Regions from separate parts of the Homo sapiens genome. Here regions 2 and 3 are each linked to region 1. A link means that fine-mapping ties the variant in region 1 to the expression of a gene that starts in the linked region. Tissue or cell type: tibial artery. Region 1 holds a variant in brackets; each other region holds the start of a gene. All regions are shown on one strand. Distances are from middle to middle.

Region 1 (7,909 bases):
TGGGGAGGCGCCCTGTTCCCTACAGCAACGCTGTCCACCGACGGTTCTTCAGTGGTGGGAATGTCCTGTGTCTCCACTCTCCAATACAGTCGCTGCTGGCCACAGGCTGCTAGCGAGCACTTGAAATGAGGCTGGTGCCACTAAGGAACCAAATTGTTAATTTTGTTTAATTTCAACTAATTGAAATTTATAGTGAAATACCCACATGGGGCTGTGGCTTCCACACAGGACAACCCAACTGGAAGCCACTGTGTCTTTGCATTACGTCAGAGGCTAATCCTTGCCATCAGAGCCAGTGGGTGTGGTGAGGCTCTGTGTGTGAGGCCCTGGACATTTCTCAAGCACCTGCTGGTGCTCGGTGAGTATTAGGCGCCCCTTCCTCCCGCTGGCTGGCTCTGTAAGTGGGGAGACCAAGTGGTTGTGTCTCTAGAATGGAGGCTGAGGTGTGTTCGTGGCACATCTGCCCAGTAATGCGGATCAGCAGGAGGTGTCTTTCCTGCACCCAAGGAGGCCTCCCATTGCACCTGGGGGCTTGGCTTCACCTATGTGACCTCACATCCAGGCCTGCGCACCCGTATCTGAGCTGGCATTGTAAGAAGCCCTGGATGGCCCCATGAACTGGCTCCTGACAGCAGCGCTTGTGGCAAACCCTCCCTGCCCACAAACCCCCCGGTGGCCACACCTACAAGAGTGCCCCTTACCGGCCAGGCGCGGTGGCTCACGCCTATAATCCCAGCACTTTGGGAGGCCGAGGCTGGTGGATCATCTGAGGTCAGGAGCTCAAGACCAGCCTGACCAACATGGTAAAACCCTGTCTCTACTAAAAATACAAAATTCGCTGGGCAGGGTGGTGCATGCCTATAATCCCAGCTACACAGGAGGCTGAGGTGGGAGAATCACCTGAACCCAGGAGGCAGAGGTTGCAGTGAACTGAGATCGCGCCATTGCACTCCAGCCTGGGCGACAGAGCAAAACTCCGTCTCAAAAAAAAAAAAAAAAAGACTGCCCCTCACCAGACTGGGAGGGAGCCCAAATGGGCAGACATGTGGTTTTTCCACTGATGTCTCTGCACTGTTCTTGTCCCGAAAACCTGGCAGGATGAGGAACAGGCCCCAGCTTACAGCATCTCAGCCCCTTCTTTCTTCTCTGCTTTCTTAATGCCTGTTAGTCCAGTGTTAAATATTTTAGCAGCCTGATGACTCAGATGTAGACTGTGAAAGTGTTTCTTTTTCCAGGGAAGGCACTGGAACAGGTCTAGTTACTGATGCTCTTAATGCCCTTTCCTTTTGCAAGCCTGGCCGAGGGTGTTTAGGAATAAAAACTTGCCTGGTTGCTGGGCACGGTGGCTCATGCCTATAATCTCAGCACTTTGAGAGGCTGAGGTGGGAGGATTGCTTGAGCCCAGGAGTTAGAGACCAGCTTGGGCAACATAGTGAGACTCCATCTCTACAAAAAGAAAAAGAAAAATTAGCGTGGTGTGGTGGTACATGCCTGTGGTCCCAGCTATTCAGGAGGCTGAGGTGGGAGGATCGCTTGAGCCCAGGAGGTCGAGGCTGCAGTGAGCCAAGGTCATACCACTGTACTCCTGGGTACAGCCTGGGTGACAGAGTGAGGTACTGTCTCAAAGAAAAGGAGGAAGAAGAAAAAGAAGAAGAGTTGGAGGAGGAGAAGGAGGAGAAAAGAAGAAAGAAGAAGAAACTCAGGGGAAGGGAGTCTATGTCCCGAGAGAGGGCAGGGTGCGCCTAGCAAGGACCCCAATGCACAGTGGATTTGGGTCAGCACTCAGTTTTCAGGCCAGGAGTACACTCGGTGGGAGAAGAGCGGGGCTCTGAAGTGGCCCCAGGGGACGGGGAGGGCCCTGGGAGTAGGAGGGAGGAGAAATGAGGCTGAGGATGAGATCAAGCTGGAGGCTAGGGTTGGTAGGCGGCCGGAGTTTAAATCCTGGCTCCCACTGGAGGGGTGATGCTGGGTGCTATTAGGACTGCCCCAAGCCTCAGCTTCTTTGCAGGTAAATGGGGCTGACAATGTCTCCTGGGGGTAAAGGAGGGTTACAGTGGGGAGAAGATGAGATGAGACACGGCACACCCGACACAAAGTCAGCTTGCAGTGGAGACTTCGTGGACAAGGTCCCTGAGCTGCAGGGGGGCTTCTGGGCAACTCCATCCCCACAGCCAGCTCAGCAGCCACCCAGCAAATGTGCACCCAAGCCAGGCACTTGGAAGGAGAAGCCGAGGGCTCTCTCACCGGGGAAGAGCTGAGATGGGCTTTCAGGACACGCTGGGTACACGCTCCTCTGCTAGAAAGAGGTTTGGGGTAAATGGTTAGGTGGGTAGGTAGGTAGGTTGATGTGGGGCAGGTGAGTGACAGATGTGGTTTGTTGACTCCCAGCCCAGGGCCCAGCACACACGTGAGGAGTCAGCTGTTCACGGGCTCCTGTCTGCTCGCTATGTACCCTGTAGGATCAGGAAGTTGGACATCATGATCCTAGGTTGTCTTTCTAGAAATGTTTGCATGGATATGTTTGTGGCCATTTTGATAGAGAGCTGGTCTTGGCCTCTGGCTAAGAGAATAAGCTATGATCTTGTTTCTTGGAGAATGTTAGATTTGCAGGGCATGGCTCTTGGTTACCCAGCACCTGATACCTTGCATGAGGCACCTTAGGCGCTGCATACGTGTTTGCTACATAATTCAACACAACTAGCTATCAGGTGAGTCTGAGGGTTCCTGTCCTGAAAAACGAGGTCAGACAGCACTTTGGAGGCAGGTGGCTGCGTCTAACTCACGGCTCTGCTATTAGACTCTTTACCCTCGAGCAAGTTCCTTAGCCACCCTAAGTTTCTTGCCTGAAAGATGTGTATAATGCTAGGGTCCACCACAGAGAGTTATGTAAAAAATAACGTGTGAAAAGCTTAGCAAAGTGCCCACCTGGCATGCAGTAAGCACTGAGGTACCAGAGGTTACTGTTTTTATTGCTACTATCATTAATATTACCATCATCACTTAAATGATGATAAGACTATTCTTAAGGTAGATTAATGGTAGGTACCTGTGTTTTTACACACGGGCTCATAGAGTTCACGTACATCTGGCCTGGATTTGTTGGAATGTGCCACTACCCTCTAATGCTTCTTCTCGTCCTGTAGCCTCAGCCTCCCAATGGGGGTGGCTCTCCGTGTTGCAATATTGTATAGGATGCGAAGTGGAGCCATCTGGCACCCGTGGGGAATGCATTCCCTTCCTTGTGGAATCTAGGGCTTTGGGGTTAACCTCTTGCCAGGAGCGGCTGCAGAGAGGCTGCAAGCTAACATTAGTGGGTGGGAGTACGCCTGTGTGGTGAGCCTGGCTGTGCTGAGCACATCTCATGGGACAAACCGCCTCGACAATTTTGGCATGATATTTTGAGCTGTGAGCCCATTCCAAACCCCTAGAGGAAAGGGCAGGGTGAAAAGTCATCTGGCCCTGCCTGCCAGACGCCATAACATAATAGCTGGAGGAG[T/C]AGACTGTTCCTGGCAAGTGACGAAGCAGCTGGTATTGAAACATACACATGGCCAGAGTTGGCAGACTGAGAATTTGGAGCAGAGTGTGAGTGCCGAGCCTGGGCTTAAGTCTCAACCCCAGACCAGACTGCCTTTCCAGGCCACCTATGAAGGATGGCTGGGCAGATGCTCCTCTGGCACCTGAGGCTGGGTAGCAGCGAAGCTCACCTTTGAGATGAGGTACCACCTCATGCCTGGCTTGGGCATTCATAGTCATTCATAGTCTCCTTCTGACACACTCAGCTGGAAGGAGATAAAACTCCAGTTTCAGCAGAACGTTCTCCTGTTGAACTCTAATCTGAGTCTGTCCTCCCCAGCAGCATCCACATACTTCCCAAATTGTGGTGAATTAAAGAAGCTGCAAGCACTGGCCCAACTGGCTTTTGCTGGTGGTTTTTCGGCAACCCTCCTGCAAATGCTGTCAGCCAAGCAAAGGAAAGCCAGGGCCACAAAGCACAGAGGCTACAGCTTAACTCAGCTTAACTCTGTTTCTTTACAAGTGGGCTATAAATTTGTGGGAGATAAAACGACTTAATGATCACTGCAGGGTTTAGTTTTGTTTTTTCAAGAAGATGGGAAGCTTATGTGTTAGGAACTACCAGGCTTCTGTTGAAGTGTTGTGTATACCTCTCATTTAGTTCATATTTTATCTTCAATGGAGAGGATTCTGTAAAAATGGAATGTAGAAAATTGCCTCTCCTGGGGTGACACTTTTGCTTTCAGAAACTCTTTGGGGCTGGGCACAGTGGCTGACGCCTGTAATCCCAGCACTTTGGGAGGCCAAGGCAGGAGGATCACCTGAGGTCAGGAGTTTGAGACCAGCCTGGCCAACAAGGCGAAACTCCGTCTCTACTAAAAATACAAAATTAGCCAAGCGTGGTGGCGTGCGCCTGTAGTCCCTGCTGCTCGGGAGGCTGAGACAGGAGAATCGTTTGAACTTGGGAGGCGGAGCTTGCAGTGAGCCGAGATCGTGCCATTGCACTCCAGCCTGGGCAACAGAGCGAGACTCTGTCTCAAAAAAAAAAAAAAAGAAACTCTCTTTGCATTCTGCATTTGGGGACTGTGACTGAGTCTAAGAGGAAAGCTGTAACTCTTCCCTGCTCCTTTCTGAGAAGGAAAGGTCCTGAAAAGCCACTGGCTCTAAGGTCTAACAAAGGCCATTTTGTGTCTTCTCTTCCTTTTTTTTTTTTTTTGAGATGGAGTCTTGCTGTGTTGGCCAGGCTGGAGTGCAGTGGCCCGATCTTAGCTCACTGCAACCTCCACCTCCTGGGTTCAAGCAGCTCTCCTGCCTCATCCTCCCAAGTGTCTGGGATTACAGGCACGCACCACCACACCTGACTAACTGTTTTGTATTGTTAGTACAGACGGGGTTTCACCATGTGGGCCAGGCTGGTTTCGAACTCCTGACCTCAAGTGATCTGCCCGCCTCAGCCTCCCAAAGTGCTGGGATTACAGGCATGAGCTATAGCGCCCGACTGTTGTCTTCTCTTCTTAACCCCTTTTCCTTTGGTATAAAAATGTGGAGAAAGGTGTAAGTGCAGAAGCAGGCCCAGACTGTAAAGACATAAGAGGCAGGAACTCCAGTGTGGCTGAGAGATGTTGGCCAGACCCATGTGCCCATGTCTCTGGGTGACCCCTCTGCCTGCCTTGCCCCTCCCTCTACTTGTAGCCTGTGATGGGACCACATTCTGGTTCAAGAGGCTCAGACAAACGTTGTTCTGTGAAGCCTTCCCGACCCTTCCACTCCCCAGGAGTACCCCTACCTCCCACCAGAGTAGCGAGGTTCCTTTCTGTAGCCTGACAATAATTTTAAGACAGGGGCAAGTGTATTACAGTTTGGTGAATCAGATTTTCTCATTTGCAGAAGAGATTGGGTGTTTTGAGCTGGACAGATCTGGGTTCAAATCTGCTGCTTATTCATTGTAGGACATTTGTCATATTAGTCTCATGAGGTCTCAGTTTCCTCACCTGCAAAATGAGTATAAAATTAATACTTACCTCATGAGGATTCAGTGAAATAGTGCACTGGAAATGCTTGACCAGAGCTGGCACATGTATCACCCAAGGAACATCTATCACTATTGGAAGGAGTCCCCTGCAATGGCAGGGACTGTGCCTGGTCCCCAGTCCTTAGCACAGTGGGCTGCACATAGTAGCCCCTCAACAAATGTTTGTAGAATGATTGTGTTTAGCTGGGCAGGGTGGCTCACACCTATAATCCAGCACTTTGGGAGGCCAAGGCTGGAGGATCACTTGAGTTCAGGAGTTCGAGACCAGCCTGGGCAACATGGCAAAACCCCATCTTTTTTTTTTTTTTTTTTTTTTTTTTGAGACAGAATCTTGCTCTGTCGCCCAGGCTGGAGTGCAGTGGTGTGATCTCGGCTCACTGCAAGCTCCGCCTCCTGGGTTCATGCCATTCTCCTGCCTCAGGCTCCCAAGTAGCTGGGACTACAGGTGCCTGCCACCATGCCCAGCTTTTTTTTTTTTTTTTTTTTTTGTATTTTTAGTAGAGATGGAGTTTCACCGTGTTAGCCAGGATGGTCTCGATCTCCTGACCTTGTGATCTGCCTGCCTTGGCCTCCCGAAGTGCTGGGATTACAGGCGTGAGCTACCACACCCAGCCAACCCCATCCTTTTTTTAAAAAAAAGAAAAAAGAAAAAGGCAGAGTCTCAGGTGCTTACCCGAGGCCTGCTGAGTTGGAATCTTTACAGTCATGCATTGCTTAATGATGGGGAGCTGCTCTGTGAAATGCATTGTTGGGCGATTTCATCATTGTGCAAACATCATAAAGTGTGCTTACGCAGACCTAGACGGTATTGCCTACTACAAGGTACTGTGTGACGCTTCACCCGTCGGTTTGGGCAGTTTATGGGCCACCCTTTAAGTAGCAAGGGGTCTGGGGCACTCTTCTCAACATTGGCTGCACACTGAAAACTCCCACAGAGCTTAAAAAAAATATTGATGCCTAGATGCCACCCCCAGAGCTTCCGGTTTAATGGATATGCGGGTGTAGCCTGGGGGTAGTACATTTTCAAAGTTCGCCAGGTATTTCTACACAACACGGAACAGCTGGCCTAAGGCCTGCAGAAGCAGATCAAACCAACTCGGCTCTCAGATGCTTCTTTGTTGCAGCATAAGACATCTACATCATCAAGCCCACTGCATAGGCTGAACTGAACCCCGTAACCGCGCCTCACTCCTGGCCCTGCCAAACCCTCACACTACTGCGGCTGATCCATCAAATAGTTTATTTTTCACCTTTGCCCTGATGTCACTTGGACATCTGACTGTCTCCTAGAGAAAGTTGTTTTTCTGCCAGAGAAGGTACAGCAGGCAGGGCATTGCTTCCTATTTAGTCGAAGGCTTATTTTAAATTGGGACTAGGCCAAGTTCAAGTGCAGGAGCACACTGGCCCCTGGGAGAGCCTGGCCAGGTACATTTGGCTTGTGAGACCAGCCGTCAGCACTTTGGCTCATGGAACACACGTCTGTCCGAGCAGTGCAGACCTGGCTTGTGTGAACTGGGCTCTGTGTGCCCTCAGGGAAAATGCCGAGGCCACATCTAGAAATTCTGGCTGAGGCTGAGAGCCGTGTGCAGAGCTGCCCCCACACATTTCCTTGTGTATATTTTGGGTTCAGGCTGACATTTCCTCTTAGCATGGGTGGAGGTAATGGCTGAATTTTTAGGAGGCTTGAATCCCTTCTACAAATATGCCTCCTCGCCCTGTAACCAAGTTTTGCTGGGTTGCAGTTCAGGAATGTATCTTGCTGCTTGTACAGCCCATCATGGAATGTGAGGACTTAGCTCAGAAGACTAAAGCACTATTCCTTCTAGGAAAAAGAAAAAAAAAGAAAGAAAGAAGGAAAGTTCCTCAGAGTTCACCAGTGAAATGGATCTTATGAGTGTGAGGGCTGAATTCCTATGATATGGCTGGGTTCCTCATGTCATATTCCCCTCCTGACATGTCTAGAGTATATAAGAAATAACCCACAGTTTAGCTGTGGTCACTGTAGACTGGTTAGGAGTTTGAGTTCTGCACACACAGAGCCTATGTATGAACCGTGGCACTGCTCAGTGTGGCCTCCGGGTGAGTTCACCACTCAAAGCCTGCTTCCTCCATTGCCAGCTAAGGACAACAGCAGTACCTGCTGCATAGGCTCATTAAGAGAATTAAGGCAGAGAAGAGATGGGAGCCACTTAGCAGAGGGCCATCTTTGTGACCAGTGCTCACAAATGGTGCATAATATTATTGTGGTTATTTTAGAAAAGCTTTTAAATTACCTTTTTGGTGTTCTTTTACCAGTTATTAAGTGGGGGAGGCACACTGCAAGTTGGCATGTGGATGGCATTTTGCCACTCTTCAAAGCTGGCA
Region 2 (7,909 bases), 110 kb before region 1:
GATGAGCTGTTATTCCAGTCTTGCTACACAGTTGTCACCATGGGGTTTCCCTTTACTGCCATCCTTGGTTAAACTCATTGCTTTCTGGATTCCATGTTTAAAACTTTTGTTTCGTTTATGCCCTGGTTTTGCTGAGGTATTTTCTTAGAAGAGATGTAAAGCAAGCTAGTTTTATGAGTCTAAAAAATGTCTTTATTTTTCTTTTCCATTTAGTTGAAGATTTGACTGGATATAGAATTTTGAGCTGAAACTAATTTTTCATCAGGAATTTAAAAGCATTGTTCCATTGTCTGCCTGAAATGGATTCTTTCTTTTTTTTTTTTTTGAGATGGAGTCTCACTTTTGTCACCCAGGCTCTAGTGCAATAGTGTGATCTCGGCTCACTGCAACTTCCGCCTCCCAGGTTCAAGCAATTCTCCTGCCTCAGCTTCCCGAGTAGCTGGGATTACAGGTACGGGTCGCCATGCCTGGCTAAGTTTTGTATTTTTAGTAGAGATGGGGTTTCATCATGTTGGCCAGGCTGGTCTCAAACTCCTGACCTCAGGTGATCTGCCCGCCGCGGCCTCCCAAAGTGCTGGGATTCCAGGCATGAACCATCATGCCCAGCCAAGATTCTGATCCAGCATTCACTCAACAAACATTCCAAGTATGTTCTAGGCACTAATGATACAGGTGCTCCCTGTAAATTCTTCATAAGTTAAAAGTATTGTAAGTTGAAAATGCATTTAACACACCTAACCTACTGAACATAGGGATATGGGAGTTAAGAAGAAATTACTTGGGCAGATAGTGAGGGTACGGAAGTCCTTGGTAAGGCTTTTATCCTTAATGAAAAGCAGCCCCAAATTGTTTTTTAACAAAGAGCAGCCTATAAAGTTGAGCTGCAGATATAAACAAGCAAGCTGGGAGCTTGCACAGGTGAATGCCGGCAGGAGCTAGGGACTATATGTGTTCAAGATGGTGGCTCTGTCTTCCTTTCTCTTTGTCGACCACCATACAATGTATTAAAGAGCAGTCAAGATAGTGCTGATCAACTGGAGAGTCCATTTACATAATAAGATTAGGGTGGGGCAGCCAGTCTTCCTCGCGGGCTATGTAAATGTCATACCTGATGGTACCAATCTATGAGGTCTGCGTAAATCAGACACCACCTTTTCCAGCCTGCCTATAAAATCTGCTGCGGTCCGCCGCCTCCCGTTTTGGACTTCTCTCTCTCTCCTTTCTTCTATTAAGTTTTCTACTTCTTAACCCACCCACGTGTGTCTGTGTCCTGAATTCTTTCTCATTGTGAGACAAGGAACCCCAGCATAAATACTCTAGACAATGTAGCTGTTAAAGTAGCATAGCCTAGCCTACCTAAAACGTGCTGAGAACACTTGCATTAGCCTACAGTTGGGCAAAATCACCTAACACAAAGCCTAGTTTGTGACAAAGTGTTGAATCTCATAGAATTTATTGAATACTGTACTGAATTTGAAAAACAGAATAGTTGTTTGAATACTCAAAGTACAGTTTCTGCTGAATGCATTCTCTCTTTTGAGCCATCTTATGATAAATCTACATCAAATTATTGTTATGTTAGGGAAGGAAACTGCCTTTGCAGAACTGACAGTAACAGAAATGTGACATGGTTGACTTCATCTTGCTTCTGACCTCCAAGCTGTCCTTGGTTATTCCTGGGCATAGGCCAAGCTAACTTTGGGAGGAATTCAATTTATAGTTTAATTTGAAAGTAAAGATTATAATAGTCCCTCCCTAAAACTAACCCCCTCCTTTCTCAGGGACCAAAATCGCCTTTGTAAGACTAATGAAAGGCCACAGGAATAGGATAATGGGAGAAGGCAGAACTCTGCTAAAATGTAGGCATAGTTTCTATAGTCCCTTAATGCCCAGGGGTCATGTGGCCAGAGTTCACAAGATCTGTGACTTTCCCAATTGCTCCTGTAAGTAACATCACTATTGTAGAACTTAAGATTGGGGTGTTTGTTTGTTTGTTTGTTTTTGTATTTTTAGTAGAGACGGGGTTTCACCATCTTGGCCAGGCTGGTCTCGAACTCCTGATCTTGTGATCCACCCACCTGGGCCTCCCAAAGTGCTGGGATTACAGGCGTGAGCCACCGCGCCCAGCCAAGATTGAGTTTTTTAAGATGTTTTTCAGACTGACCTCACTCAGACTCATGACTCATGACTCAACAGGTCCTGGGGCCCCACCCAGAGGCAGACTCAGTGCATGAGGACTGCTTTCCACACCGGTATGATTTCATCCCCAACCAATCAGCGGCACTATCCCCCTACCCCCTGACAACCAAATTGTCCATAAAAACCCTTGTTCCGAGCCTACAGGGAGACTGATCTGAGGGATAACTCCAGTTCTCCCACGTGGGCTCAGCCTCGCGGCAGTTAAACTCTTTCTCTATTGCAATGCCATGGTCTCAGTGAATTGATTTTTGTCTGTGCAGTGGGGAAGAAGAACTTGTTGGGTGGCTCCAGAACCATCTGTATAATGATGAATAAGACAAAGTCCCTACTCTCATGGAGGAGACAGATAATAAAGAAAAGAAAAAAAAAGGATTTGGTCATTGTAAGTGCTATGAAGAATTTAAATAGGCTAAAGGGATAGGTGGAGAATAGAAGTTGCATTTTTTCTTTCCCTCCAGATAGAGTCTCACTCTGTCACCCAGGCTGGAGTGCAGTGGTGCGATCTTGGCTCACTGCAACCTCCACCTCTGGGTTCAGGCAGTTCTCCTGCCTTAGCCTCCTAAATAGCTGGGATAGCAGGCACCTGCCACCACGCCCGGCTAATTTTTGTCTTTTTAGTAGAGAGGGGGTTTTACCATGTTCGCCAGGCTGGTCTTGAACTCCTAACCTCAAGTAATCCACCCACCTCGGCCTCCCAAAGTGCTGGGATCACAGGCATGAGTCACTGTGCCCGACCTGAAAGTTGCTATTTTAGGTGTGATGAGCAGCACAACATCTTTCCTGAGGAGGTGACATTTGAGATGTGACTTGAATTGTGAGGAGTAATGTGTCATGCAAAAATACAGGGAAGTCATATTGTAGTCAAAGGCAATAGCAAAAAAAAGTCTTTGGGGTTAAAATAAGTCTGACACATTCAAGAAAGTTCAGAAAGGCATACATACCTGTGTTAGAGTAGGTAGCTAGGGGAACATGAGAAGGGCAGCAGAGGGCATTCCACCCCCACCCCCAACCAGGAATGTCAGGCGACCATCATGTGATGGTCAGGTGGTTGTTACACTGTTTCTCTAAAATCATCATTGGTTGCAGCCAGCACCAGGGAAAGGCCGGCTCCCAATAGATAGAAAACACCTGAAGCTAGTGTCAGCCGCTTCCTGATAAGATCTCAGGAGTTGGGCAAGTGGGCTCAAGCATGGGCCCTAAGGGGCAAAATGTCAGAGTTTAACTAATATATGACCTTCCTCTAGGAATTCTCGACTGGCAAGGGAAAAATGCCTCAAATGAGCACGCGCACAACTTCAGTAAACACACTGTGAGTGCGGCCACTCCCAAGTGCTGGCAGACCACTGCATAAGTGGACAGCCTGCTCCAAGGGAAGGATCAGGAGAGAAGAAACGCAAATCCCAGAACCGTGCCAACATATAAAACCCCACATTAAGGGTTGTACAGTGCACTGGGATTTCTCAAGTCACCCGCTTGGTCCTCTTCCAAGTATACTTTACTTCCTTTCATTCCTCTCTAAAACTTTTTTAAAAACTTTCACTCCTGCTCTAAAAGTTATCTTGGTTTCTTACTCTACCTTATGCCCCTTGGGCGAATTTTTTCCTCTGAGGAGGGAAGAATAGAGTTGCTGCTGCAGACACATCAGATTCCCTACTGGTAACAGCTGGAGTGCGGTAAGTAAGGAGGAGAGGGCTGGAAAATGAAGTTGGCTCTGATTCCCATTACTTGAAAATACAGGGTAGGAAAACCCTATCTTCTTAGGTTCAGTGGCTGGGGAGCACCATCACTCAAGGTGAGAACTGCCTGGCTGAGCCCAGCCAACTCACAGAACTGTATGAGGTATTTTCATCTACTGTGCTAGGCACCTAGTGAGAGCCCTTTTGCGTCTTTCAACTTTGGAAAAAATTATGATTTATTTTTATTTTTTAAATTAATTTTATTTTTTTTTTTTATGTTTTTAGAGATAGGTTCTTACTCTGTCATCCAAGCCAGAGTGCGGTGGCATGATCATGGCTCACTGTAGCCCAGAACTACTGGGCTCAAGTGATTCTCCTGCCTCAGCTTCCCAAGCAGCTGGTACCACAAGCACATGCCAGCATGTGCAGCATGGGAAATATTTTTATGTTACCACCTCGACACTTTCTTCCTTCTACTTTTCTGTGTCATGTCTGCATCTCCCGTCACTTAGATAGGGACCTCACAGTTTGATTCTCCAGACCTTTAATATTTTTTCATATTTTAAATATTTCTTTAATTCTGTTTTTTGAGATATTTTATTAAATTTACCTTCAACCTTCTGTGGATTTTTTTTTTTAGACAGGGTCTTGCTCTACTGCCCAGGCTGGAGTGCAGTGGCATAATGATGGTTCATTGCAGCCTCGACCTCCCGGGCTAACGCAATCCTCCCACCAGGAGCAATCCTCTCAAGTAGTTGGAACTACAGGTGCATGCCACTAAATTCAGCTAATATTTTTTATTTTTTATAGAGATGGGGGTCTCGCCGTGTTGGCCAGGCTGGTCTCAAACCCCTAGGCTCAAGTGATCCTCCTGCCTCAGCCTCCCAAAGTGCTGGGATTATAGGTATGAGCCACCAAACACTGCCAGAATTTTAAATATCAGGATATAGGAAAGGTTTTGCTTTCGTTTTCAATTTTGTTTTTGTCTTATGGCACGGGGCCAGGCAGGGCAAAGGGTAGATTCCATTGACACTTATTTTTAATTTTCTGCCCAAGTACGTTCCCACCATTGTTCCTGGTGTTTCAGACCCTCTCCAGGGTCTGCAGAGTCTTGTTTGGCTGGAGCCCCTTCTACTCTAGTCTAATGCCCCTCTGCCCTAATTCCTCAACTACCAGGCCGTCACTGCTTTCCATTACCCACAACCATGGAGAAAGCTCTCATCAGCTAATGTGCCTTCTCCAGTTTGCCACATTATTACATTATTGTCTGGACATACCTGTTTTTTTGTTGTTGTTGTTTGTTTGTTTGTTTTTGAGACAGGGACTCGCTGTGTTACCCAGGCTGGAGTGTAGTGTTGCCTTCTCGGCTCACTGCAACCTCTGCCTCCCAGGTTCACTCGATTCTCCTGCCTCAGCCCCCTGAGTAGCTGGGATTACAGGCACCTGCCACCACGCCCAGCTAATTTTTGTATTTTTAGTAGAGATGATTTTGCCATATTGGCCAGGCTGGTTTCAAACTCCTGACCTCAAGTGATCCACCTGTCTCAGCCTCCCAAAGTACTGGAATTACAGGTATGAGCCACTACGCCTCATCTGGACCTACTTGTTTTTAAAAATGCCTTTGTTATCATTTTAATGAAGTCTCTTAAAGGAAAGGAGTTGCATTTGTGTGTTCTGTCTTCTTCAGTAAAGAGAGGGCTTTTATTTATTTATTTTATGTATGGAGATAAATGAACCTTAAACATTGTATATTTTTATTTTTATAAATCCACCTGTTTACTGTCATTTCAAACATTACTTTAAATTTATTTTCCCCTCAGAGCTTTTAAATAATCAGGAGCTCTAAGCATTGCCTGGGAAATGTTTTGTTTTCTTTGCGCTGTCCGCCACATGCTAGTGATTTTCAGCAAGGTTGTGTTTACGTGTATTTCAACTGGGCAAATAGGAACTAATATGAAATAAAATAACATTAATCAAACCTGACTTTATGAGCAAGTTTTGAAATAGTTCACATCTCAAATTAAAAATAAGTCTTTTTTGCTAATTAATGAATGAATGTTTTGGTCAAGAATCATTTCAAAGCTGAGCAGCTGAGTGAATGATAGAAACTGCACTCACACTGTTGCTGTATGGTGGCACCATCTCAGCCGGTATACAGAGATGTCTGCAGGTTTTCATCAGGATCATGGGAACTGCACTGTTGTTTACAGACATTGGAACTCTGACTTGTGACTTTAGTGTAATTTAAAACTTTTTTATATCTCAAAGCCATTTGCATTAGTCCATTTTCATGCTGCCGATAAAGACATGCCCAAGATGGGCAATTTACACAGGAAGAAGGTTTAATGGACTCACAGTTCCGTGTGGCTGGGGAGGCCTCATAATCATGGCAGGAGGCAAGGAGGAGCAAGTCACATCTTACATGGATGACAGCAGGCAAAGAAAGAGCTTGTGCAGGGAAACTCCCCTTATAAAATCATCAGATTTCGTGAGACTTATTCACTATCATGAGAACAACATGGGAAAGACCTGCCCCCATGATTCAATTACCTCCCACCAGGTCCTTCCTGCAACAAGTGGGAATTTAAGATGAGATCCGGGTGGGGACACAGCCAAACTGCATCACCATTTCACCCACGTTTTATGTGTTGGTGCTAGTGGGAGTACTAAAAAACTGTTCCCAGATCAATAAACTGGGAACAAAAGTGAGAAGTGGTAGAAAGCTGTGAAGAAGGCCCAGAACAGCCCACCCTGATATGCCAGGCTGTTCTTTTGGAAGAAAGCAGTTTGTACACAAGAGAGGTGATGCTGAGAAAGTGAAAAACCTGAAGGTTTTAAGAGCCGAAAAAGTGCTAATGTGAAAACACGCCACATGGTTTTATGTAGGGGCCCCTTTACTTTAATGCTTTTTCCAACAGGAAAATTTGACTTAAGTTATTTGAGTGCAGAATTACACAAGAACTTCAAGAAAAGTTATAAAATGTAATTGCACAGAACAACTCAGTTCTAGAATAGGGATTTTCCATTTTTGGAGGGCTTTTATGTACATCATCATGATTAAGTCATGCTGGGCCTATGAAGAAGGTGGAGTGTGGGATCATTCTCTTTTTCTGCCTGATGAAATGGAAGTGCTTAGTGCTTGGGCAATTGATCCAAGTCACTGCTAGAAAATAGGTGAATTGGTTGGGCATGGTGGCTTACGCCTGTAATCCTAGCATTTTAGGAGGCCAAGGAGGGTGGATTGCCTGAGCTCAGGAGTTTGAGACCAGCCTGGGCAACACGGCGAAACCCCGTCTCTACTAAAATACAAAAAATTAGCCAGGCGTGGCAGTGGGCACCTGTAGTCCCAGCTACTCCAGAGGCTGAGGCAGGAGAATTGCTAGAACCTGGGAGGCAGAGGTTGCAGTGAGCCAAGATCGTGCCACTGCACTCCAGCCTGGGCAACAGAGTGAGACTGTCTCTAAAAAAAAAAAAAAAGAAAGAAAAAATAGCTGAATCGAGACTTAGCATCCAGCCTTCAGAACCCTCATTCAAAACTCTCTGGGAAGCTAGGCATGGTAGCTCACACCTGTAATCCCAGCACTTTGGGAGGCCAAGGCGGAAGGATCCCTTGAGCCAAGAGTTCAAGAACAGACTGGGCAATGTTGCAAGACCCCTGCCTCAACAACAAACAAACAAAACAAAACTCTCTGGGAGGTCCTTTGGTATTACAGCATTTTAGTTATTATAAAACTCAGTCTTCTTAAGGAAGACAACTCAACTAACTTTTAAATGTGTGAAAAAAAGGAGTTGTAGTCACTTGAATTTGCACTCTGAATACTAGAATAATTTTGAAAATTAAATATTTCCGATGAAAATTAGATTACCTTTTAAATTTTCTCTGAAAAATTATACATTCACATGAGATAAAATCCCTAGACTAGAAAAGAAATATGAGAGGGAAGTCTTCCTCTTTCCCTGCTCCCGAGTCCACCCACTGTCACTAGTTTCTTATGTGAGTTTCCAGAAAGAATTATTTATATATTATAATGTAG
Region 3 (7,909 bases), 170 kb after region 1:
TCTCCTTTCTTATCACTGAGATCAGCTGTGTTGCCATATAGGACTCAGTTCCAGGGCAGGACCCTTTGCTTCCTCCTGGAAGCCCCTGTCTGTCTGCTGGCTCATGCAAGGCCTCCGCCAGGGGCTGGTCTGGATGCAGCACTCCCAGCAGCAGCCTGGACCCTGGCTGGGTGCACTGGGGCTCTCAGGCACAGACTGTCCAATCTTCCAGGCCAACTGAGGCTCCGGATTTTCTTTTTTCATCAATAGAGGTTAAGGATGTGTCCAGGGTCACACAGCTATAGCCAGTCAGAACCAGGTCAGAATTGGGTGTTCTTTTCAGTGTACTCCACCACCTCCCCATATGGGTGACTGGATGGAGTGGGCTGAAATGGGCTCTCTGGCAAGGTAATGAGCTCCCCATCCCTGAGTGTGCAAGAAGAAGATGGATATCCCTTCATAATCCCCCTGGAACTGTGACACAGGAGATTTTGGCATAAGGTATTTCCAGCTAAGGGCAGTGCTCAGCGACATTTGATGTCTGAGTCACTGATGACCTTTGCTCTTCAGATTTCCAGCTTGTTGGCTGCTTCATGGGCTGGGCCCAAGGGGCTCAGTTACTGACACCATCAGGAAAGGGCTCTCAGGGAAACATGCTGAAAGCTATTTCCATTTATTTGTATTTGCTGCCTTTGACTTTGGACAGTAGCTCAGCTCCTGGGAGATCTGTGGGGGATGTATGTGTTGAGAGTTCTGGGGGTGAGCTGAAGGCCCCGGATCCTTGAACTAGACCCTGCAGAAAGCGATGGATTCAGCCAAGGCCAGGGTTCTGCCTAGGGGCTGATGGGAGCGTGGCATCCTGGGACGCTTCCCCAGAGTGGCCACTAGAGGGGGCCCGCTCTCAGCTGCACTCTAGAAGTGATACCTGGAGGGCATCCCTAGGTTGGCCCATGGTGGAGCAGGTGGGATGTCAAGCTGGTCCAGGGTAATAATGTCTTTCAAACTTGTTAATTGAAATCTTACATGGGGTCCCACATTCCAGGGACAGTTAGCAGGGAAAACTTTGGGGTGGAGGGGAAGGAGCAGCGTAGAGAGAGGAAATCTGTCCATTTGTACACAGACTTCTGCTCAGCCCCTCTCCGCCCCCATGTTCTTGGCACCGGGCTAGGAGGGAAGCCATGGACCAGACTCGAGGGGGAGTGGAGAGCAACATGATGGTCGGGGAAGAGAGAAGGTGCACAGCAGCTGTGTGTGCACAGCCATGCGTGGGTGCCTGGATGAGCCTCTGTCACTGCCCCGGAGGGGAGCTCAGCCTGATGGGTGGGCTGCACCTCCAGCTGCCGCATGTCCAGCAGAAGGGGCTGGTTACCCTAATCCCCATCTGCCTCTGCATCAAGAGGCACAGCATCCATGGTGAAACTGTCTCTACTAAAAATACAAAAATTAGCCAGGTGTTGTGGCAGGCGCCTGTAATCCCAGCTACTGGGGAGGCTGAGGCAGGAGAATCATTTGAACCCGGGAGGCGGAGGTTGCATTGAGCCGAGATTGCGCCACTGCACTCCAGCTTGGGGGACAAGAGCGAGACTTCGTCTCAAAAAAAAAGCACAGTGTCGCCATTAACAGTCATGTACAAAAATGCAGGAGAAAGCGTCTAACACTTAGTGAACAACTCATGTTAAAGAGTACAGTAGGACCGCATTTTCAAAAATGTGTGTATACATACAAAATGTCAATGTACTATTAATGGTGCTGAATTCGGCTGTGGAATCCAAATGATTTTTATTGTTAAGAATTTTTGCCTCTGAATTTGTGCCTGTAAATGCATTGCGTTTGTAAAAGGAAAATAAATTAACAACAAGTGTTTGTTTTTCAAGCATGAGAGAGGGCCCACACCTGGCTCAGGAATGCAGCCTCGGCCTCTGGCTCCTGAGGCCCCTGCAACAGTTGTTAGAGGCCTGCTTCCGGTCTCATGCTGCCCCTGAGCGTCTAGGGATGGTGGGCAGACCCTGAACTGGGTTCCTAACCCCCCTGTCTAAGACATGCCAGTGTCTTCAGCCCCTTGTCGCCTACATTCTTCTCCCACTGGTTCTCTCATTGTGCACGTCCCTCCCTACCTCCTGATCTCCAGAAGAGCTAGGCTGAGAGGTGAGCACCAGTGGACTCCTTTGGGCCCCACCTCAAATCCTGTCTGCAGCACCAGCTGCTGCTGCTGCTACTAAACACCAAAAGCCTGACAATCAGCTGCTTCTCCAACCCGGTGGCAGTTGCTGGGATCAGTTGTATACTACCATGAAACCCTGTCGTCTCACTCTCAAACCCAAAATCCAAGGCACAACCAAGAGACATCGCTCTAAGCTGAAGTGCACCTCTGGAAGCTACTAGAACAGCCAAAGATGCTCTTAACACACGTGCATACATGGATGCAATTGCAAATGAGGACATAGGTGGGTACAAACACCAGGGCCATGTTCGTACTCAAACACAGAAGCAGACACACACACCTATGCATACATAATCACATGTGCACACTTATGCATGTGGCACTCAAGCAGGTACACAGGCAGAGTGGTGGTTATGGACTAGGACATCCAATTACCCAATTCCAGAGATGTTTATTGAGCACTTTCTAAAGTCCAAGTTTGGTTGCTGGGCTCTGGGGATGCAGAGATGGGTAAGCCACTCACAGAACATTCCACAGCGATCGGCTTCTGTGCAAAGCAGAATATGGTGTTGGGAGGAGTAGAATCACAGGATTTGAGGGCTGAGGCGGGAGACAAATTCAGGGGTACCTCCCATTTATAGAGTGTTTCGTAGTTTCTAGATCACAGCCACAGGAGGCAGCGCAGCTACTTTCCCGTTTTACTTTAGGATGTATGTGGCCTAGGAGAGGCTGGCCTTGGGTCTTAAAAGCTGTACTGCCTCCTGGTTCCTATTACTGTAACTAGGGATTTCTGTGATCCCTGGGGTGGTGGTCCAGGCCTTTGATGGACCCGTGGTGACCCATGTGACTCTGACCCACATGGCCTCCACCTCCCCATCCCCTAGTTTGGGTCATGGGCTTCACAGGCCACGTCGCTGAGGACACTGTAAGATTGCACTTAGGGCCAGGTGCGGTGGCTCACACCTGTAATCTCAGCACTTTGGGAGGCCGAGGTGGGCAGATCACCTGAGGTCAGGAGTTCGAGACCAGCCTGGCTAATATGGTGAAACCCTGTCTCTACTAAAAATACAAAAATTAGGCCGGTGTGGTGGCGGGCACCTGTGATCCCAGCTATTCAGGAGGCTGAGGCACAAGAATTGCTTGAACCCGGTGAACCTAGGAGGCGGAGGTTGCAGTGAGTCAAGATCACACCACTGCACTCCAGCCTGGGCGATAGAGTGAGACTCCATCTCAGAGAAAAAAAAAAAGCAAAACAAAACAAACAAATCCCAAACATTTCCACTCTGGATGCCAGCTTGAAGGCTCTTGGTCTTGTCCTTGACTTTTAGGCAGTCCTTAGCTCCCAGAGAGAGCAGCATTAAAAATCATCATCAGCAAAGTACTTCATTAGGCATAGCTTTTAATAATGCGGAATGCTCAATTTTTATTGAAATATGTTTGTCAAAACACAGATAGAAAATGCTAGAAATAGAGCACCCCAGAATGCCAGAGCTGGGAGGCATCTGAGAAGCTTCTAGTCTAATCTTCTCCTTTGACAGATGAAGCCTGAAGATTTGGGGGTTGGTTCTCACTGAGGCTGTGCCCTGGGTTGCCCCAGGTGCTGTGAGGAACAGGAATGGAGGCACATGGCACCCACACTGGTCTCTGAGATGCCATCACTCACAGCTTCTCCCCATCAGCCAGGGCCTTGGACACAGCCCGAGCCTGAGTTGAAACCTGGCCCTGGAACAGGAAGTGCTTGGAAGCTTCCCTGCCGTTGCCGTGGTGCTCACAACCACCCAGGAAACCAAGGCAAGCTCCCCCTGTCAAAGCACCTTGGCCCATAAGAAGAAAAGGGGGAGCCCCAGATGTGATGAGCGCTTCCAGGCTTCAGGCTCAGAAGGCGCCCCCAGCTCTCCTGTAACTCAGAGGCCAGTGTGATGGGAGTTCCTCCACTCAGCACACTTCCCCTGTAAACACGCCTGTGGTGGGCAAAAGGGCTTTGGAACGGTAAGTACAATGGGTATTTTTCAGCCACTTCAGAGACCAAGAAATGTGTCCTAGTGACAGGTGCTGTCTTAGCACCTGTCTAGACCCAGTGTTAGACTTGGGTGCCTCTGGTCTACTTGGCAGGGAGGGAGTTTAGGGAATCAGGAGGGGTCTGGGAGCTGAGAGACCATTGTAGGTAGCTCCTGCCCGCCCACAGGGACCTTGGCACAGGCTCTCAAAACACACGAAGGGGCAGATTGCCTGGTGGGATGAAAAAAGAACACATTTCCAGGCCATTGAGATGTCTCTGGATTTCAAGATCAGCTAAAAAAGTTCTTAGATATTGATCTAAGAAAGCAGGAGCTTTGGGTAGCTGAGTGCAAACCCCAGCCTCCCTCTCTCTGTAACTGAAGCGGTGCTCTGTGGGCATAGCGAGTCCCGTGTGGGGTTTATTCTGTGCTGACCAGGTCTGCTTTAGAATGGAACCCTCTTCTCTCTTCTCAGATTCCTTAAGGCCACGTTGAGGATTTGGGGGTCTATGTCTAGGGCAGTGGGAAGCTGGTGAAGGGCTTTAAGCTGAGGAGTTCATCATCCTGGCTCCTGTGAGGTAAAGGGATCAGAAAAGCATGTATGTGTTACCTGAGGTGGGAGAAGCCTCACGCAAGGTGGAAACTCAGCCATCAAGGAAAACACACATTGCTGTAAACTCAAGTGCACCTCTGAAAGCTGGTTGAACAGCCAAAGATGCTCTTAACACACATGCATACATGGATGCAATTGCAGATGAAGACACCAGCAGCTGGGTACAAACACCAGGGCCATGTTTGTACCCAGACACGTTTCTTTTTCTTTTTTCTTTCCCCTCGAGACAGAGTTTCGCTCTTGTTTCCCAGGCTGGAGTGCAATGGTGAGAGTTTGGCTCACTGCAACCTCCACCTCCAGAGTTCAAGTGACTGTCCTGCCTCAGCCTCCCAAGTAGCTGGGATTACAGGCATGCGCCACCACACCCAGCTAATTTTGTATTTTTAGTAGAGACAAGGTTTCATCATATTGGTTAGGCTGGTCTTGAACTCCTGACCTCAGGTGATCCACCTGCCTTGGCCTCCCAAAGTGCTGGGATTACAGGCATGAGCCACTGGGCCTGGCCCCAGATATGTTTTCAAATTAGAGACTGGCAAAGGAAATACACACACACACACACACACACACACACAGGACATATTTTCATACTAATGAAACAATTTGTTTACCATAAACAAAGTCAAAAGACAAATGATACACTTCTGCAGCATGTATGGCAGACAAAATGTTAGTGTCCCCAGTACATAGAGGGCTCCTTAAAAAATGCTAGTGAGACTACAGTAACCCAGTAGAAAATTGCGGAAAACCTATGATTAGGCAGTTTTCAGAAAAGAAAAATTAAACAGCCAATAAATAGATAAAAGAATGCTCAACCCCACTGGTAGCCAGGAAAGTTCAAATTAAAGTAAGAATCTGAAACCATCTGACACTCACCAGCTTGGCAAAAATAAATACGATGATACTACCTAGTACTAAAGATGTTGTGAAAAAAATGACAACACTTATAAATTGGTGATAGGAATGTTAATTGCTGCAATTTTGGGGCAAGTGAATTGGTATTAACTATTTCAATTGAAGATACAGATCTCTGACATAACTATACCACTTGGAAGACTATTTCATAGAAATAAAAACAGCAACACAAAGATATATATATATATATATATATATACACACATACATACATATATATACAGATGCAGATATAGGTAACATGTATAGATATATGTATACACACATGTACACAAACTGCCATAATAATGTGTATGCATATTGTTCCCATTGTTTTTATTATGGGAATAAAATATAGGAAATAACCTCAATGACTTGGCAGAGGAATATTTTAATAAATAATGATGCATTCACTGTATGAAATATTATGCGGCCAGAAACAGTGTCTCATGCCCATAATCCTGGCACTTTGGGAGGCCAAGGCAGGAGGATTGCTTGATATCAGGAGTTCAAGACCAGTCTGGGCAATATAGATCAGTCTGGGCAACCCTGGCTCTAGAAAAATTAAAAAATTAGCCAGGTGTGGTAGCGGACACCTGTAGTCCCAGCTACTGGGGAGGCTGAAGTGGGAGGATCACTTGAGCCCAGAAGATTGAGGCTGCAGTGAGCCTTTATCACACCACTGCACTCCAGCCTGGGCAACAGAGCAAGACCCTGTCTCAAAAAAAGAAAAAGTGATATTATGCAGCTATGTTAAATTTTTCTTTCCTGTCATTGTATTGGTTCACTAGTTACAACAAGCATATATTATTAATACTTTTGCAATTAAAAAGTCCAATTAAGGCAATTAAAAGGCAAAGAAAAACCTGTCTGCCCAAGTGGAATGGAAATTCTATGAGGCAAGGATCGTGTGCATTTTGCTCACTGCTGTCTCTCAGAAACGGCTAACGCCTCTCTCCATATGGCGACTGCACAGGAGATGCTTGTTGGTGAATGGATGAACATAGCCATGGCTGTGATGCAGGTGAAGTGCTGTTTGGGGAGCAAAGGGAGGTCAGCTGAGGTTCTTGGTCATCAAGTGCCGTGGCTTCTGCTGGTTTCACCAGCTCACCCACTTCTCCTCTTCTCTGATGTTGCTCTGGGGAACTACCCAGTCCCCAGTGCACGTTCTTGTTGGGAGAATTAGTCAAGGTGTCTGCCCTCAGGGGCCAAAGAGTGGGCCCCTGAGCTAAGCCAGGCCAGTTGGGGCCTCTTGCTGAGAATCTGGATTGAAAAGAACCCTGCATAGATGGACTGTGGGAGAGCCGACTCATGCTGGAGGCAGCGCCTGACAACAACAGCCACCAACTCCTGGTGCGTGCCACCCAGGTCCCTGCAGCTGCTTCCTGTTCTTTCCCGGAGAGTTCTCCAGTTTCCTTTTGAGTCTATGAGACCCTCCTCTCATCACCATCCTTCCAATCAATCTTAACCTCCCCGCAACCCCATAATCAAATGGGTTTCTGTTGCTTGTAACCCAACAGCCCTGATAATGTTCAGAGATAACTGGAAAGTCCTTGCACTCTTCCTCTTTCATGACCCTGTAAGCTAGGGTGACCATCAGTCTACAGAGCTCCAGGGCAGCCCTGGCCTACAGCCATTGTCCAGGCCTAATTATTAATATCATCCCTTTAGTCTCCTCGTCTGAATGATCAATTATGTGATCAGCCTACTTATAGCTATCTTTTGGTCTTCCTCACTTTGGCAAAGGATTATCTTCTGTTTTGCTTTATCTGAGCCACTTTCCCAGAACAATAGCAGAGATCTCTCTATTCACCTGCTTACAAAAAAAACAAAAAACAAAACCAAACAAAAAACCCCAGCAACAACAAGATATTCTCTTGATTGATAAATAACCCACATTCGAGGCTTATTCATTATTGTTCCTGTGGCAAAGTATAGATTCTTTAGGCCAATCTCCTCCATAATATTTTGAAAAGTATGGAAAATGTCACCTTTACCTCTTTTGTCTTCTAGGTTGCTTGTCTTTTCTCTCCTGCGTAATTTCCACTTTCATTCATGATAATGTCGAACACGGTGAGTAGATCAGTTTCTCAAGAAGGTAGGTGATGAGAAGAAGCATTTGCTTATGGTCATTTTGACAAATTTCCACAAGGGGCTGGGTTCTGCACCACCGAGGACCTCAAGCATTATTGGCTGACTCGGCTGGAAAGAGCGCGTCCAGGCAGCACCGTCCAGAGGGCAGAGAGCAGGCTTGTGGTCTGAGCTGAC

Direction of the effects. Positions count from the first base shown, and alleles are read on the strand shown. Sizes are in standard deviations (SD) of each study's normalised expression. Not every link is listed here.
As copies of C replace T in region 1, the expression in tibial artery of the gene that starts at base 3,547 in region 2 goes up (moderate effect, 0.68 SD a copy in GTEx).

Evidence for each region. PIP is the estimated chance that this variant, and not a neighbour inherited with it, causes the effect.
Region 2: TACC2 starts here. The variant in region 1 is fine-mapped to the expression of TACC2 in tibial artery (GTEx, PIP above 0.99). The same link has a PIP of 0.9 or more in aorta, breast, coronary artery, subcutaneous fat, tibial nerve and visceral fat.
Region 3: it holds the start of BTBD16, and the variant in region 1 is fine-mapped to the expression of BTBD16 in tibial artery (GTEx, PIP 0.98).

What each region holds. Positions count from the first base shown.
Region 1 is chr10:122,095,713-122,103,621 of GRCh38, forward strand. The region is part of intron 5 of TACC2 (transforming acidic coiled-coil containing protein 2); the gene reads left to right. Among named protein-coding and RNA genes, the nearest start is that of TACC2, 110 kb to the left of the region's middle. The variant T/C (reference allele first, on the strand shown) is at 3,497.
Region 2 is chr10:121,985,617-121,993,525 of GRCh38, forward strand. TACC2 (transforming acidic coiled-coil containing protein 2) reads left to right here and starts at 3,547. Exons shown (of 23, transcript NM_206862.4): 1 at 3,547-3,872.
Region 3 is chr10:122,267,386-122,275,294 of GRCh38, forward strand. It overlaps BTBD16 (BTB domain containing 16), which reads left to right and starts at 3,911. Exons shown (of 16, transcript NM_144587.5): 1 at 3,911-4,129; 2 at 7,655-7,714. The coding sequence starts at 7,697. RefSeq lists an enhancer at 805-1,306.